Regions from separate parts of the Homo sapiens genome. Here region 2 is linked to region 1. Evidence: fine-mapped expression QTL. A gene starts in region 1. The other region holds a variant in brackets. All regions are shown on one strand. Distances are from middle to middle.

What was found. PIP is the estimated chance that this variant, and not a neighbour inherited with it, causes the effect.
Region 2: its variant is fine-mapped to the expression of RSBN1L in whole blood (TOPMed, PIP above 0.99).

Annotation. Positions count from the first base shown.
Region 1 is chr7:77,694,730-77,697,635 of GRCh38, forward strand. RSBN1L (round spermatid basic protein 1 like) reads left to right here and starts at 1,730. Exons shown (of 8, transcript NM_198467.3): 1 at 1,730-2,326. The coding sequence starts at 1,741. It overlaps APTR (Alu-mediated CDKN1A/p21 transcriptional regulator), which reads right to left and starts at 1,536. Exons shown (of 2, transcript NR_134254.1): 1 at 1,167-1,536. RefSeq lists enhancers at 825-1,720, 1,721-2,616, 1,801-2,030 and silencers at 1,551-1,770, 2,241-2,560, 2,851-2,906.
Region 2 is chr7:77,903,739-77,906,644 of GRCh38, forward strand. The region is part of intron 6 of PHTF2 (putative homeodomain transcription factor 2); the gene reads left to right. Among named protein-coding and RNA genes, the nearest start is that of DDX3ILA1, 85 kb to the right of the region's middle. The variant A/G (reference allele first, on the strand shown) is at 1,589.

The DNA.
Region 1 (2,906 bases):
GGGACTACAGGCGCATGCCACTACGCCCAGCTAATTATGTATTTTTAGTAGAGGCAGGGTTTCACTATGTTGGCCAGGCTGGTCTCGAACTCCTGACATTGTGATCTGCCCGCCTTGGCCTCCCAAAGTGCTGGGATTACAGGTATGAGCCACCGCGCCCGGCCACATTCCTTATCTTTTAAGCTAAAACCCATCTCCCCAAATTGCTTATTTTCGAAGCAAAAATCAAAGCACATGCTTACAAAACATCGAACACGCAGTGTGCTTACTAAACGCTAAAATACAGAAACCTAAAAAAACAATTCTTGCTTTTCAAACATCCATAAATAATCGCCAACGAATTTTTCCTGGCAAGTCTACGTTATAATAATAATAATATTATTATTATTATTATTATTTTTTGAGACGGAGTCTTGCCCTGTCGCCCAAGCTGGAGTGCAGTGGCGCAGTCTCGGCTCACTGCAACCTCCGCCTCCTGGGTTCAAGCGATTCTCCTGCCCCAGCCTCCCCAGTAGCTGGGATTACAGGTGCGCGCTTCCATGCCCAGCTAATTTTTGCATTTTTAGTAGAGACGGGGTTTCACCATGTTGGTCAGGCTGGTCTCGAACTTCTGACCTCGTGATCCGCCCGCCCCGGTCTCCCAAAGTGCTGGGATTACAGGTGTGAGCCACCGCGCCCGGCTATAATAATTATTATAAAATTCAAATCTTAAGGCCGCACATGGTGGCTCACGCCTGTAATCCCAGCACTTTGGGAAGCGGAGGTGGGCCGCTCACCTGAGATCAGGAGTTCGAGTCCAGCCTGGCCAACATGGTGAAACCCCGTCTCTAATAAACACAAAAATTAGCCAAGCATGGTGCCGGACGCCTGTAGTCCCTGTTACTGGGGAGGCTGAGGCAGGAGAATCGCTTGAATCTGGGAGGCGGAGGTTGCGGTGAGCCGAGATCGCGCCACGGCACTCCAGCCTCGACAACAGAGCAAAACTCCGTCCCAATAAATAAATAAATAAATAAAATAAAAATCTTAAGGGTCTAGTCACAACAGTTCAAAAGTCTCCAAAGGGAGACTCTCACCTTCAAGCTTGTAAGTAATACTAAAGTTCTAGATTTGCTGGAAGTTATCTCCTTCAATGGATTACAGCACATGATCTAGCAATAATAACGTACCTTGTCACCACATCGAATGATTTTGAACACTTCCCATCAATCGACTACCGACTAACAAAAAGAAGGACTTGATTCCCGGCAATTTTTTCTCTTCTGAACTGAGCATTCCCGAAATCCAGCTTGCTGAACGCGCAGATGCAGGGTGAGAGGCACCCCAGGAAAAATGGAAGGGAAAGTGGTACAAGTTAAAACAGTCTTCGTGGCCGCAGAGACGATCGCTACCTCGGCCATGGCAGATCTGGGGGTCCGGGGCGGGGGTTCTTCCCTGATACCCACCGGGCACGCGAGTTCACGCCAGCGACAGTGGAAAGCCCTCCCCTCGCAGCGCGCTCCGCCACTAGCCGCACCCCGCCGAGCTCTGACCTCCGAAGAGGGTCCCTGTGGCGATCCCGCCCCTTCGTCTGATGTTTGTGCCTTTGATTGGCTCTTAGGTGGATCCCTCAGCGTGGCTTGCCCAATGGAGCAATGCCGGCTGGTGGCCTGGCCGCTCCGCCCCTTCCCTACCCCTCGCGGAGGGCCCGCCCCCTGCCCCGCGCCGGCTAGCGGAGGAGAGTAAATACAACAGGAGCGCAAAATGGCGGAACCGCCGAGCCCCGTGCACTGTGTCGCTGCCGCGGCCCCCACCGCCACCGTCTCGGAGAAAGAACCGTTTGGCAAGCTGCAACTCTCCTCCCGGGACCCTCCGGGTTCTCTGTCCGCCAAGAAGGTCCGGACTGAGGAGAAGAAGGCACCGCGGAGAGTGAACGGAGAAGGGGGCAGCGGCGGGAACAGCAGGCAGCTGCAGCCGCCGGCAGCACCTTCGCCTCAGAGCTATGGCAGCCCCGCGTCTTGGAGCTTTGCCCCTCTGTCTGCTGCTCCCTCCCCGTCCTCTTCTCGGAGCAGTTTCTCTTTCTCCGCTGGCACGGCCGTTCCCTCCTCAGCCTCCGCTTCCTTGTCTCAGCCGGTGCCGCGCAAACTGCTGGTCCCTCCTACGCTGCTGCACGCTCAGCCTCACCATCTCCTCCTGCCCGCCGCCGCCGCCGCTGCCTCGGCTAACGCCAAGTCGCGCAGACCTAAGGAGAAGCGGGAGAAGGAGAGGAGGAGGCACGGTCTCGGTGGGGCCCGAGAGGCCGGCGGGGCCTCCCGGGAGGAGAACGGGGAGGTGAAGCCGCTGCCCCGAGGTGGGTGCCGTGCGGGGAGGGGGAGGGGAGGGCGCCGTGGGTCCCCGCCGCCCCCTGGCGCCCACGGGGCCCGGGAAGGGGGAGCGCGGCGGCCGCGTGCGCCGGCCTGGAGGGGCTGGGAGGCGTCCGGTTTTCAGCAGAGGATTTTGCAGTTCCCAAGGGGACAGGAAATGGAGCCTGTAATTTCGGTTGCAGAGAGGGGGATGGCCGACACTCTTATTTTCTGTATCGTTTCTTCCTCCCAGTTAGTGCGCTGCAGGATTTGTGAAAATCCATCTTGAGGACTCTCCTAGGTTTGTTTGGCTAGGGAGAGAGATGGAGGGAACGGGATGGGGGAAGGGTTTGGTTTTGTAAAAGATGCTTGATTGATTGTTAGACCACTTAGACGTGGTCGCGGGAATTCGTATTTGTGACACAGCGTTCAACCCCGGATAATCCTGTCAAAAAAGGGGTGTGGAGAGAGCACTGGCGTCAGCTGGAAGCTACCAGAGGCCTGAGCTTTTCATCCCTATTAGGGAAATGAGGTAGCGTGCAGGGCCCGAAGTGCGCTGTTTCGTAAGGTACCCTCCCTGCACCCTAC
Region 2 (2,906 bases), 210 kb after region 1:
TGTGACTCTGATGACCCTCGGCAGGCTGCCATTACCTTTGAAAACCACTGTATGTCTGTCTCCATTGCAGCACCCTGTGGAAAAGCAGGGTGCTGCAGTGCTCTGAGTTATGTCCTCATTCTTGTTCGCACTTCTTGAAAGGCAGAAAGAATCAAATGCAGTCAGATTTGGTTTTATATAACTATGTATAGTTTTTTTTATTTCAATTACATGCTTTTTAAGTATCTCAGCTATGTATTCTCAGCTCTATCCCCATTTCTGCATGTCTTGGTTGCCTAGTTTCTTGCCAAGATTACTGCCAGGAAACCTCATATCATCTTCTACTTTCTGTCCATTTACCTATTAAATGACAAATTCAAACCAGCTGCTTAAGATCTAAATTTCTTCACTAGTTATCATTGCTTTCAAGATGCAATCTGAGTTTTCAAATCCCTCCTTGAATTTCTATCCCACCTTAACCAGGCTAAACTAGCTCTTTGCTGTTTCTTAAACATTCCATGCTTTTTTGCCTATGTGTCTTTGGACATGCAACTCCCTTTGCGTGGGGTAGCCCTTTTCCCTTTTGTTTAGTCAATCCTCTATGTTCTCTCAAATTTAGATTAGACATCAGACATCACTTTCTTGAAGAATCCTTTCGTAACTCCCCAATGTAGTTACATATCTTTCTTATGTATATTATAGCAGTTAATCATAAGTGTTATATTAGTCACCTTGGGCTACCATAACAAAATACCACAGATTGGGTGGCTTATACAACAAAATTTATTTTTTCACCATTCTGAGGGGTGGAAGTGCAAGAGTGAGGCAATGTCAGAGTTGGTGTCTGATGAGGCTTCTCTGACTTGTAGATGTCCACCTTCTTGCTGTGTCTTCACAGGGCCTTTCTTGTGTGTGTGAGTGGAGAGAGAGAGTACTCTGGTATCTCTGCCTCTTCATATAAAGACAAGAGTCGTATCAGTTTAAGGCCTTACACTTACGAATCTGTTTAACCTTTACTACCTCCTTATAGGCCCTGTCTCCAAACGTAGTCACATTGTGGGTTAGGGCTTCATTCAGCATATGCATTTGTGTGGGGAGGATGAAAGGAGCACAGTTTAGTTCATAACAGGTATTTTCATTGTTTCTTTATATGTCTCTTCTTTCCTGTAAACCAAGCTTGTCCAACCCATGGCCCATAGGCCACATGCAGCCCAGGATGGCTTTGAATGTGGCCCAACCCAGGTTCATAAACTTTCTTAAAACCTTATGAGATTTTTTTTAATTTTTTTAAAGCTTATCAGCTATCGTTAGTGTTAGTGTATTTTATGTGTGGCCCCAGACATTTCTTCTTGCAGTGAGGCCCAGGGAAGCCAAAAGATTGGATACCCCTGGTCTAAACCAAGGGATAGGGAGCGGAGACTGTGTCTTGTCTTTTTTTCTGCATTGCCTAATTGCCACTGAATCTTAAAGATTAACAGTCCTAAAAATGGAAGATAATATTCCATTCTATTCTATTCTGTTTTTTAGACATAGGGTTTTGCTTTGTTGCTCAGGCTGGAGTGCAGTGGTGCGATCATAGTTCACTGCAGCCTTGAACTCCCGGGCACAA[A/G]CAATCCTCCAGCCTCAGCCTCCCAACTAGCTAGGACTATAGGAGCACGCCACCATGCCCAGCTAATTATTTTTATTTTTATTTTTGTAGAGATGGGGTCTTAATATGTTGCCCAGGCTGGTCTTGAACTCTTGACCTCAAGTAATCCTCCCACTTCACCCTCTTAAAGTGCTGGGATTACAGTTGTCAGCCACCACAGTTTCTCTCTGTTGCTCAGGCTGGAGTGCGGTGGTGCAGTCATGGCTCGCTGCAGCCTCAACCTCCAAGGCTCAATCATTCCTCCTACCTCTACCTCCATAGCTGGAACTACAGGCATGCACTGCCATTCCCAGCTAATTTTTGAAATTTTTTTGTAGAGGCAGGGTTTCGCCTTGTTGCCCAGGCTGGTGTCAAACTCCTGGGCTAAAGCAGTCCACCCGCCTCAGCCTGTCAGAGTGCTGGGATTACAGGTGTGAGCCATTGCATCCAGCCTACTCCTAGAGTTCCCCTTGCCCAGTACGTGAAGTCCTGCCTTTGAAATATTTGTGCCCAACAACATTCTGTCTTAGTTGATCTCCAGCAGAAATCTCTAGCAGCACTGTCTAGTTCGTAGGACTTCATTAAATGCTCAAAAAGTATAACTCAGCATTATATAAAATAAGTGAATGTTTTCTCTATATATCTTCTTTTTTTTTGAGACGGAGTCTCGCTCTGTTGCCCAGGCTGGAGTGCATGATCTCAGCATGATCTCGGTTCACTGCAACCTCCACCTCCCAGGTTCAAGCAGTTCTTCTGCCTCAGCCTCCCGAGTAGCTGGGACTACAGGCGTGTGCCACTAAGCCCAGCTAATTTTTGTATTTTTAGCAGAGATGGGGTTTCTCCATATTGGCCAGGCTGGTCTCAAACTCCTGACCTCGTGTTCTGCCGGCCTCAGCCTTCCAAAGTGCTGAGATTACAGGCAGGAGCTACCACGCCCGGCTCTCCATATATCTTCTAAACCTTAACTTGAGAGGAAAACAAAAAGGGGAAGTGATACCAGAGTTACGGAGGAAAAGCTACTGTCTCAGGAACTGAGACCATGGGAGGGACATGATCACTTTTAGAAAGATACAGTCAGAAGAAAGAAGGAAAAAGAGAGGAAGAAAGTGGCTCCTCCTCCTTTTTCTAATGCCTTGTCGTCAGAATTTCACAGTATGTAATAACTTCCTGTTAAGATATACAGAAAATATAATTTGTATGCTCCCAGCCCTAGGATTACAGAGAATGGTGATCACAGGGCTGAAAGAGTTCAGATAAATAACCAGCAACAGGTTATATAAAACCTAAAGTTTTAAAAGAT